Regions from separate parts of the Homo sapiens genome. Here region 2 is linked to region 1. Evidence: fine-mapped expression QTL. Tissue or cell type: whole blood. Region 1 holds a variant in brackets; the other region holds the start of a gene. All regions are shown on one strand. Distances are from middle to middle.

Region 1 (5,847 bases):
TCCATTAAACTTTGATTCATTACAGCGCATGTTTCTGTGAGCACAGAGTTGGGGCTAAAGTTATAGGCTAACAACATCTCAAAGCAGAAACAATTTTTCTTAGTACAGATCAAAATGGAGTTTCTTATGTCTTCCTTTTCTACACAGACACAGTAACAATCTGATCTTTCTTTTCCCCACATGGACTAATGCGATATCATAGATATGGTGTGTCTTCAGTTACAAGATGCTCTGTTTGAATTATATACATTTTAGAAAACTATGTACAGATGAATAATTTAAAATTAATTGTAAGTGGTATTTGTGGTCTTGATAGAGTTGGCCACGATGTCCAAATGTAATATTAAGCCTATGGGAAAGTCAGAGCCACTTTTTTTTTTTTTTTTTTTTGAGTCAGAGTCTTGCTCTGTCGCCCAGACTGGAGTGGAGTGGCATGATCTTGGCTCACAGCAACCGCCACCTCCTAGGTTCAAATGATTCTTGTGCCTCAGCAGCCAGAGTAGCTGGAATTACAGGCCTATGCCACCACTCCCAGCTAATTTTTTTGTATTTTTAGTAGAAATGGGGTTTCGCCATGTTGGCCAGGCTGGCCTCAAACTCCTGACCTCAAGTGATCCACCCACCTTGACCCCCAAGGTGCTAGGATTACAGGCGTGAGCCACCGTGCCCAGCTGAGATCCACTTTCATTCTCACCTCACAGTGGCTCCTGACTCCTTTTCCAATGCACCAAGACACACACCACGGAGGGATGTCTGCACAGACTTCTAATGTGGTTTGGGGTTGCAAACTGTAGTTGGGGCAATTTTTTGTAGAGAGGTCTGGTCCTGGACCCACCGTCAGAGACCTTAGAGAAAGGATCCCTTTGGGGGTCCCAGACAAAGATCTTCTTTCTTTATAACTTGTCATCCTAAGATTTAAAGGGTGGAAGGGGAACACAGAAATTGCATATTCACTACAACTCAAAAAAGAAGAGAATTAATTTTGCACCACTGACAAATAGGTCATCTTAGGCACTTCAAAACTCCTTAAATGGATCTAAAAATATTTGTCCTCTAATATTTTGGTGTCTCTTCAGCCAAAAACAAAAATTGCTTAAATTTGGTCCCATAAGAATTATAGTCATATTTCAGTTTGCAATGTGCCCTAATTCTAGGGCTTTCCTGGAATGAAGGATGCAGTTATCTTTGAGACCGGCTTTCATAGCCCACCCCCTTCCATGATGAGGAGGCAGGTGACAGGGAGGAACAGCCACCACGGGAGGGTGTGCGTTCTCCCAAGGGAGTTTTCTTCCTGCACACCTTCCTCATCTTCTTTAGACACTCAGGAAGTTGATGGGCTGAGCACTCCTGGCTTAAGCATTTGAAAAAGCAGCCGAGGAGTTTCCGCCTGTAAATAGTATCTGTAAAACCGTGAGCGGCTGGGAAGCCCACATCTCAGGCCACGGGGTCTGCGTCTCCCCTCTTGAGGCGACGCTGAACAAAAGTCCCCAGGGCCGCCAGGGGGATGCACATGGTGGAGGAGGCCACAAGCAGCCCGATGACAGCCAGTGCATAGGCCGGGTAATCTTTGGTCACGAGCTGGCCCTGAAAGGAGAGACTGAGTGTCAGCAGAGAGCACCTGCTGAGCACTGCCCCTGGGCCTCAGGGCCCATCCGTGATGGGGAGGTGATGTGACGTGGGCAGAGAGCATGTGGGGCCGGTGTCCTCACTCCTGGGGCCACGGGCTCTGCAATTCACTAGCAAATGTGCCAGGAGCCTAACTGCCCTCACCTTCTTTTTCTTCCATAAACTAGGAATAATAGTAACTACTTGAACCAGTGGGTGTAGAGCTATTGTTTGGAGCTACCCATAATGAATAACCATGGTAATAATCAAGCACCTTATGTCTAAGGCAACTTTCAGGGAACCTAAACTGTAGGCGACTACTCTTAGCCTGGAATGGGACTTTCCCGTGAAGGTAGCAACGTTCTCTGTCAGTGCTGTCTGCTGCGGTAGGCGCGGAGGAGAGCGCTGCTCAGGAGGCAGGAGCTGGCGCCTTTGCAGCGGGAGTTTTTCTCAGCTTCCGGGGGACAGGTGGATGGGGAAGCTCTGGAGGAGTGCCTTCCTCTCGCCCCACTGAAGCACATACCTAAAAGCTCAAAGCCCAGCTCCTCCGTGCTGGACTATTTCTAAAATACCTCAGTGATATTTCCATGTCGTGACAAATAACCTACCCACACCATGGAAATAGTCCCCTGGTTTCGGAAAATGAATGGCCCATGCTTTTCAGTGGCCATGGGGGCCCAGCGCCAGCCCTACGGAGACAGTAGATACCTGGGAGGCGTCCCAGGCTTGATACTTCAGGGTCCCCGTGAGGATGTAGTCGCTCAGGTAGAAGACAAAGAGGCTGACAATCAGCAGTGGGCTTACGCCAGCCCACATCACCTTCCAGTACCAGCTCACAGCTCGGCCGGTCATGGCCTTAAGGTCACTTTCAAATCTATTTGGAAAACAGGGAGAGAAAGTCTGGATTAACCAGGCTGCGGAGGTCAGGGCGTCCAGCTTGCCTGTCCCTATTCACAAAGGAACATTCTGTTCTAGGTGGTAAAGGATGTCTGAGCTTGGCCACTGGGCTCCTCTGTGACACCTTCTTGAGAGACGAGTGCTGCGGTGGGGAGGGGAGAAGGGCTGAGGCTGCCCAGAAGGGATGACGGAGCAAGCAACCCGCAGAGAGTGGACATCAGAAGACGCCTTCCTAATGCCAGCCTTCAGATGAAGGCTGCTGGCATAGCCCAGAGGGCAGCCTCCAGGAATGGTGGGCACAGGCAGCAGGGGATGGACATTTGTCAGGCTGGTCATCAATGACAGGGACTTCTTGGGCGGCTTTGCCCACCCCCCTACCCAGCCCGCCCCTGTCAATCAGTGACTCCCTTTCCCAGTAGAAACACCACGGAGCAGAATCACTTGGTCCATTGAAACCAGAGCAGGTTTTCTGGGACAGAGGAAGAGCCAACCTCGGACTGAAGGACCGTAGCCCTGGCCTGCTGGAGCTGGTCTAGAGTGGCCAGGGCAGTGAGTCCCAAAGGCGTTGCCCACAGCCACCATCACCACCTCCATCATGCCTGTAGCTCTCTTTTCCCTCTTCTTTACTTTTAAACCTACGGTTAGCAGCAGCACAACAGCAGCCAGTTTCTCATCGACTTGACAAACTAAGTACGTGTGTTTTTGAATACACGTACACAGTATAAAAA[G/A]TATCTTTGGCATTTTGGGAGATGTTGGCCCAACGAAACTCCCCATTTCACACAGGAGGAACCAAGGCCCAGGGCTGCGATGCCTTCTTCCTTAGGGCTTGGTAAAGACCAGGCCCAGAACCTGGGTTGGCCTCCTGCCTCCAGCCCAGAGCCTTTAAACCTGCTCCCTACAGCGGAAGAGGCAGCCTTGGCGGGAGGGGCTGGGGTGGTGTGGGTGTGACGTCACCAGCTGCAGCCACAGCCCCTCCCTCCCTGGGACCTGCTGCATGTCCTGGGTGTCCATGCGAGGCTGTGTGGCGACCACCACCTGCCCTTTGCTGCTGCTGACGTAGTTGGACTCTAGGCTGCAGGCCATGAAGGCTCATGTATGTGACACGAAAACCTGGGGCTTTCAAAATCAGACAGGTGAAAAAGTGTTGGGGGTCCTCTTGTCCCTTCACACCCCCATAACCCCCCCCCCTTTCCTGGATGGAGAAAGTTGGGAAGAGCTGGCTGCAGAAAAGCCCCAGGACACTGTTGCTGGGTGGTCACTAGATGGCGGTGTCACCTGAGCAAGCCGAAGCACTCCCCTCCTGCCACTTACATGGTCAGTCCACCTACGACATCTCCAAGGCACGTTTGTTTCTGCCTCTGTCTCCCTTCACCAGCCCCTTTTTGATGGACTTGTGCCCCTCACCCATCTAGTGACCTCCAGCGGGCCCTAGGTTCTGTTCCTCTCTCCCAACCTTCTCTTTTTATCCTGAAACACTCACCCTCTCAGTGACCAATCTCTTTCTCCCTCTAGACTGGCATTTCCTAGGTGACCAGGGATTTTCCCAATTTTAGTACTGAAAGTTCCACGTCCCAGAAAACCCCTCAATCCTGGGGAAACAGGGAGAGTTGGTCCCCTTAACACTAGTGTCCTCAAAATGTTAGTAGCTAAGGGTGGGAGTCGGGTGAGAGGAGGGTGAAAAGGCATTCCTTGACCAAGTAAGTCTGGAAATGCTGCAATTCTAACCCTCTCTTTGGGATCCACAACTGTCTTTAAGATTCTGAGAAGTCCTACGGGAAAGACATCAATTTGGCTTTGTTTAACTTATGTCCTGATGGATCATGGGAGATCCCTCAGCATGGCACGGGACCCTGGCCTTTCCGGGGACACAGCAGGGATTGCTGCTTCAGGGATGCCTGCCTCCCAGAGTGTTGTCAATGTCTCCCTCCCCACCCTGAACCAGCACAGAGGATCAAAAAGACTGGGGAAGAGGGCAGAAAACAACGTGGCACAGCCTCCTCGCCCAAACCGCACCCACTAGAGCAGCGCTGCCCAAACTGTGATGTGCCTCAGGCCCCCTGGACATAGTGTGAAGATACAGGATCTGATTCAGCAGGATGGGGTGGGCCCGAGCTTCTGCAGTCCCAACGAGCGCCTTGTTGCTGCTGCTCCCGCTCTAGGGACCACACTTGAGGTAGCAAAGCTCTCTAGGCCAGTGGTTCTCAAAGTGTGGGTGCCAGACTCATCTGGGAACCTGCTAGAAATGTGAATTCTTGGCCCTCCCCTGGCCTGCCTGATCAGAACCCTGGGGGTGAGTCTCACAGCTGTGTTTGACCAGCCCAAGGGACTCTGAGGCACACTCGAGTTTGAAGGTTGCTCTAGACCAGTGGCTCTTGCCCCAGCTGCACATTCCATCACCTGGGGAGAACTAAAACATTCCAGTCCCGTGCTGTGCACTGGGATTGAGAACCTCACTGACTAAATTTTGAATCTGCCAAATTTTCTAAGGTCTAAGTTATCAACTGGACTTTGGTCAGGGTTCTTGGAAAATACTGATGTTGGCCGATGATCAGAGCATCCAGTGCCTGGAGGCACAATTCCCTGCCCCAGTAAGCTGTGGGGGTCCAGCAGGGTCAACCCTAAAACAGCCTATGATACAAAGCAAAAGTACAGGGAATAGAGAAAAAGATATTCACTGAAGCAAACTGAGCATGGAATAGAGGCAGAGCATAAGCTGAGATCTGCGGGCAAAGAACAAACGTTGAGTCATGATGCGAAGCTTAAAGAAGAGGTGAAGATGTGCATCAAGAAACAGCTGTTTTCCTTGAGGGGCGTGGCCTCTGTGGCTGTGTTTTCCCTATGCAAATGAGGGTCCTGGGCCTCCTCACCTCCTCAGCCCGTACACGTAGCACACGGCAATCGTCTCCACCAGCACGATGAGCAGCAGGGACAGTGTGGCCGCGTAGTCGTTGAATATGTCAAACCAGTAGTTCCCAGCCTCCATCGTGAACACCATGCCAATGGCACAGTTGACAAGGCACACCAGACCTGGGGGCCACAAGACCAGCTGCTCACCTGCCCGAGACCCCCCCACTACTGCTTACCAGTTCTCTACAGGACAGTGGGGTCGTCGGCCCTCAGGGAATTTTGGCTGATTGCTTCATCCACATGGGTTGAAAGAGCTGTCATGGTTTGGACTCTCTGAAGGTGTGTGCCACGTGTGTGGGGCAGGGGGCACAATGGTGTCCCGAAGCGTGTTGGCAGGGGTCACTGATGTTGACTCACTGAGCTGCCCTGCAGGGGTGGCAGAGCTTAAAGCTCAATGAACAAGCAGACGTAGTGGGCACTGTCATTCCAGGATCCCGC
Region 2 (5,986 bases), 72 kb before region 1:
CTCATCTGTAAAAATGGGGATAACAACTGAATTTACCTCATGGGATTGTGTAATGCCCAACCTTGTTTTTACTAACCCTGTTTTTAGACTCTCCCTCTTCCTTTAATCACCTAGCCTTGTTTCCACCTGAATTGACTCTCCCTTAGCTAAGACAGCCAGACAGACTCCATCTTGGCTCTTTCACTGGCACCCCTTCCTCAAGGACTTAACTTGTGCAAGCTGACTCCCAGCACATCCAAGAATGCAATTAACTGATAAGATACTGTGGCAAGCTATATCCGCAATTCCCAGGAATTCGTCTGATTGATAACGCCCAAAGCCCCGGGTCTATCACCTTGTAATAGTCTTAAAGCCCCTGCACCTGGAACTGTTTACTTTCCTGTAACCATTTATCCTTTTAACTTTTTGCCTACTTTATTTCTGTAAAATTGTTTTAACTAGACCCCCCCCTCCCCTTTCTAAACCAAAGTATAAAAGAAAATCTAGCCCTTTCCTCAGGGCTGAGAAAATTTTGAGTGTTAGCCGTCTCTCGGTCGCTGGCTAATAAAGGACTCTTAATTCGTCTTAAAGTGTGGCGTTTTTCTAACTCGCTCAGGTACAACAATTGTTGTAAGGAATGATTGAATTCATCCAAGTAAGGGAATTAGAGCAGTTTCTGGCATGAAGTAATTGCTCAATAAAGTGTGTCAGGTTTTAAGATTAATTGATCTTTACATCATGATAAATGGCAACAAAATAAATGACAAATGGATTAAAGTAAATGGTAAAAACAACATAAGAACAAAACATTAAAAAATCATATAATAGAAGAAACCAAATATTAGTAAGTGTGAATATATAAAGTGAAAATTACTACAAGTTCAAATATATATATATATATATATATATATATTTTTTTTTTTTTTTTTTTTTTGAGACAGAGTTTCACTGTGTCACCCAGGCTGGAGTGCAGTGACGTGATCTCAGCCAACTGCAGCCTCCACCTCCCAGGTTCAAGCAATTCTCCTGCCTCAGCCTCCTGAGTGGCTGGGACTACAGGCACACACCACCATGCCTTGCTAATTTTTGTATTTTTAAATAGAGAGAGGGTTTCACCATGTTGGCCAGGCGGGTCTCGAACTCCTGACCTCAAGAGATCCACCTGCCTTGGCCTCCCAAAGCACTGGGATTACAGGCATGAGCCACCGTGCCCAGCCGTTAAAAAAATTTTGAAAAGGTAAATCATAAGCTGGAAAAAAGATTGCAACGTATTTAAGAGTTAATACCCTTAATATATTAAAAAATCAAATTTGTAAGAAAAAATTCAATACATCAAGAGAAAATATATAAAGTACATGTAAAAGGAAGTTCCATATTCCAATTATGAAAATTGCAAATCACGGTTAAATTTATAATAGCCAGTGTTGGTTAGCATGCACGAAAACAGAGAAACAGGTGCTGTTGATGGAAGTGTGTTTTGGTTTAATTTTTTGGAGGGCAGTCAGAAAGTAACAAAAGTCTTAAAAATGTCCATAAAATGGACCTTACAGATGTCCACCTGGTCGTTCCACCTCTAGAAATTTGTAAGACAAATAATTCGGCCGGGCACAGTGGCTCACATCTAACCCCAGCACTTTGGGAGGCTGAGGTGGGCGGATCACGAGATCAGTAGATCAAGACCATCCTTGCTAACACGGTGAAACCCCGTCTCTACTAAAAAATACAAAAAATTAGTCGGGCGTGGTGGCACACACCTGTAGTCCCAGTTACTTGGGAGGCTGAAGCAGGAGAATTGCTTGAACCCGGGAGGCAGAGACTGCAGTAAGCCGAGATCACGCCACTGCACTCCAGCCTGGGTGACAGAGCGAGACTCCGTCTCAAAATAATAATAATTCAACACAGGGTCTCATTCTGTTGCTCAGGCTGGAGTGCAGTGGCATGGTAACAGCTCACTGCAGCCTCAACCTCCTGGGCTGAGGTGATCCTCCCACCTCAGCCTCCTGAGTAGCTAGGACTATAGGTGCACACCACCACACCTGGCTAATTAAAATTTATTTATTTATTTAGTAAATAGAGATGAGGTCTTGCTATGTTGCCCAGGCTGGTCTCGAACTCCTAAGCAGCATCATTTTTTCTAGGTGTTAAACTGACAACCACCCAAATTCCCAGCATAAGGATTCTGCTTAAAATATCTAGCTCTCTGATGAAATATCTTCAAAGAATATTTAATGACCTTAAATCTCAGACAAAAAGGTAAGGAGACAAAATGAGGAACCCATTTCCGTACAACCCCAATTTGGAAAAACACATGTGCAAGTATGCCCATGTTAAAAAATATAGAAGAAAAAAAGGCTTTAAGGAAAAAAAAAATAATAGTAATGATTTAGGGTGGGAATCGCGTTAATATTCCCAATAATTTTATATATTTTAAAAATCTATAATTTTATCAGGGGAAAACGTTATGTTGCGGAAATTAATTGATCGATTGAGTGATTGGTTAACGGACAGTGTCCGATGACTCATATAATCCCCCGGTTCGAGTCCCTTTAGGCCGCAGACGTTTCGCGCCTTCTCGGGTGTCCAAGTCGCGCATCCATACAATGAGGGGTAATATACTAGATTACCTGAGGTCTTCTTACGGTAAAAACACCGGTGTCTTAAGGTTTCCCAGTGGAATTTGGGGGCCGGGTTGACTTCGGAGCTGGAGCTCGCAAAGGCCGGGGCTGCTGCAGATTCTGACGCTTTGTGGACCCCTACTACCGAGCGCAGCCGCACCGCAGGTTTTCTTCGCTGCTGGTTAGATCCAAAGCCCATCCCATCCTAGTAAACTGGGACAGCGCCGCTTCTCACATCACTATGGGGGCTTCTGCTCCGTGGCGGGGAAAGGCCAGAACTGCTGCCTTAAATACGCTTTTGCATCATCCGGTTGCTAACCTCCGGCCACAGCATTCCCCACTCCAAAATGCCACTTTTCCAGGTGTGTTTGCCTAAATTTACCCCATTTACAGACTTCTCAGGTGCATCATTGGGAACAGGGCGCTTTGCAGTTTGCAAACCACCTCAGACAACTCCAGGTTTAAAGGATAAAGGATGACATTGTGAGCAAAGCGGCATCAAAATTTCAGATATTTAACTTTCACATTCTAACCATACACCTTTCCAAGGTCTTGTAATACTTTCACATTGTGAATATACATCTTTACAAGACCCAGTAGTACATGGGTCAAGTGTGGCAAAACAGACATCGCGAGCCAGCCAGGAGTCGAACCTAGAATCTTCTGATCCGTAGTCAGACGCGTTATCCATTGCGCCACTGGCCCCGACTTGCTAAAGCCTTCTCCGTGATAGCTGATCACCCTTATACAGTTTGAACGGGCTTCCGGGTACCAACGATCCATTTTGCCCTTGCGCCGCGCTCCCGCTGCTCTGCCTTTCCCCAAAACGCGCCCCACCAATCCGCAGCGGCTTCGTCACGGCGCTCTTCGTCGCACTCCAACCCGCCGCGTCGGCGGCATCTCTCGCGTGCTCTTGCTTGCGCACTAATTTGTCCTCCACCGCCTCCCGTTCAGGCCGGCTCTCCTGCGGGGCGGGGAAAGGGGTGGGAAGAGGCTGGGAGCTGCGGCCGCTGTGCCAGGGTGACCGGTAGAGTTGTAGCCGAGGTGGCGGCGCGGGGCGGGGCGGGCGGAGAGAGAAGGAAGGAGGTGGTTGTGCAGGATGGCGACGGCGGCCTACGAGCAGCTGAAGCTGTGAGTCCCACGGGCCAGAGGCCTGAGGCGCGGCGGGCGGGGCGGCAGGTGCGGGCCCTGGCCTCGGGGAGGGCTTCTGAGTCCCGGATTGCAGATAGGGTGTGGGAGCTCCTCGCATTTACCGGTTTTCCTCAGCCGGCGCGGCCTCTCCTAGGCCTCGCCCGAGTAGCCATAGGCCGGGAACCAGCGGCTCGCCGGCCTTTCTCCACCGTGCTCGGCCCCAGCGCCCACGGCTGAAGAGAGAAGCTGCCGACTGGCCCCCACCGAGCCGGGGTCGGCGTTATGATGCGGCCCTTCAGGGCACGCTTGTCCCCACTTTCTATGCAGAGCTACCGACTAAATTTATCTGTATGACTTAACAGAGAAAAAGAGTTTTCTCTTACTTAACGGACCTACAGCAGCAATTTAGAGTCTACGCACAAATCAACAAATCTTTGTTTTGCTTACAGCCTATCTGGGTACCGAAGCCTGCCTGCCCCCTCTTCAGTGTGCAGAAAAAATTTAAAGTACAGTCAGTAGTCTTAAGGTCCTGAAGGAGTTTACTTTGGTTTAAATTTTAAACAGCTCCAGCCTAAAGCAGGTTCTTAAGTCAGTGTCGACAGCCAGAGGCTAATCTCGGTAATTTTGGTACTGCAAATTGACTTTTCGGTAAATCCAAGTTCTTGAGTCTTTGATACAGAGGCTGTGGTTGTTAAGAGTTATAAAATAGGTGTTTTTAAGGGTTTTGGTTTGTCTTGGATTAAAAACAACATGTGTTTATTTCCCTTAGTGTTACCCATTAGCATCCACACTTTTCTTGTCTGTGAATAATTTTGTTGTACTCACTTCGTGTTTAATGCTTTACCCCTAGGCTGTTTGAAAATCTGGTGGCCACAGCCTGGGAATATCTGGTAGGAGAAACAAATGTAATTTTTTAGAAGCTTATCTATCCCTGTATATGAGCTAAAATACCTTGGCAGTTAGGCATAGATACCGCATTTCTTTTGCAGGGAAATGACACCAAAATGTGGTTTGGGCACTTAAGCTCCTCAGACCTCAACCTCACTAGTAACTTTCTGAAAGGTTCAGTGGAAAGTTAGAGGTGCAAAATTCAGAGAGGTCATCTATTCCACATTGTATGTGTTGCAAAAAAGATGATTGCTTTTTCTACAGTGCACCCCCTGTGGGTGCCATTTCTGTTTACTGTAATGTTCTTTGAAAACCCTAGCTGCACACTTCCCTCCACATTTTCCTCTCCACCTTTCCCTATTTTCTCCCAGTTCCCCTTTGCAAAGTGCTCACCTCGTCTTTGGTGAAAGAGTTGAAGGAAGTGTCTTCCACTGCGTTTCTGGCCAGGCCACTGTCACATGTGCTCTGCTAGCTAATTAGGTTATTGTGTATCTGATAGGCACTGAAGGGTTTAATGTGATCCTACACCAGGTCTCAAATGTGTTTAAGCCATATGGAGCCATGGCTTCATGCAGCTTAGCGTGGCAAAGATTGAATAGGATGGAGAACTTGAGAATTATGATGATTGTTTTTCAGCTGCCAGAACACTAAATTTAACCAGTTCAGACCTTAAAACAAACCCAAATCCTCGCATACATAAAAGAGAAAGGAAATTTGTCCCTGAAGTAGTAAGAATGATGTTTTTGTATTGATTTTTGTGAGAAGTGGAAACTCTTAAATTATTTGGGTGATAAAGTCAAACTGGGGTTATGTGAAAGTCATTCTCTCATTTGTCAGTCCTAGCTTTTTTTCCCCCTGAAAAAAAAGTTTAGAGTGTTTCTGTAAATGTGAAGGTACAACTTTTTTGCACCTTTTTCTTTACCAAGGGGTTTATGAGTTAGAGTTTCCATTTTTATTCCTTCCTTTTGGCCCTTCCTGCTCTGAGGCTGCTGTTGAAGGTTTTCAAATGTGGCTCCTGCCCTAAGGAGTATTCTTTTTTGGATGCATTTAGAAGTGAAATTGGTTTCTGTGTAAGAATTGGTAGGAGATAGTAGCCATTTTTTAAAATGTGTCTGGAGATGTGTTTTAAGAAATATCCATGCAAAAGAGATAGTTCGATTATTTTATTACAAAAGGATTGCTAAAAGGATTTATTTAAATGTTGAAATGCTTGTTTTTTTTTTCTTTTGTTTCGTTTTGTCTTTAAAGAGATGGGGTCTCATTCTGTTGCCCAGGCTGGAGTACAGTGGTTTGATCATAGCTCACTGCAGCCTCTAACTCCTAGTCTCAAGCGAGCCTCCCACCTCAGCCTCTCGAGGAGCTAGGACTACAGA

Evidence for each region. PIP is the estimated chance that this variant, and not a neighbour inherited with it, causes the effect.
Region 2: it holds the start of SACM1L, and the variant in region 1 is fine-mapped to the expression of SACM1L in whole blood (INTERVAL, PIP 0.95).

Annotation. Positions count from the first base shown.
Region 1 is chr3:45,757,544-45,763,390 of GRCh38, forward strand. It overlaps SLC6A20 (solute carrier family 6 member 20), which reads right to left. Exons shown (of 11, transcript NM_020208.4): 9 at 5,370-5,529; 10 at 2,314-2,479; 11 at 1-1,584. The coding sequence ends at 1,435. Among named protein-coding and RNA genes, the nearest start is that of SLC6A20, 36 kb to the right of the region's middle. The variant G/A (reference allele first, on the strand shown) is at 3,231.
Region 2 is chr3:45,685,773-45,691,758 of GRCh38, forward strand. SACM1L (SAC1 like phosphatidylinositide phosphatase) reads left to right here and starts at 3,624. Exons shown (of 20, transcript NM_014016.5): 1 at 3,624-3,725. The coding sequence starts at 3,694. It overlaps LIMD1-AS1 (LIMD1 antisense RNA 1), which reads right to left and starts at 3,110. Exons shown (of 3, transcript NR_033947.1): 1 at 2,604-3,110. It overlaps TRR-ACG2-1 (tRNA-Arg (anticodon ACG) 2-1), which reads right to left and starts at 3,299; the gene lies at 3,227-3,299. It overlaps LIMD1 (LIM domain containing 1), which reads left to right. Exons shown (of 8, transcript NM_014240.3): 8 at 1-569. RefSeq lists enhancers at 2,426-2,495, 3,006-3,055, 3,316-3,605 and a silencer at 3,636-3,815.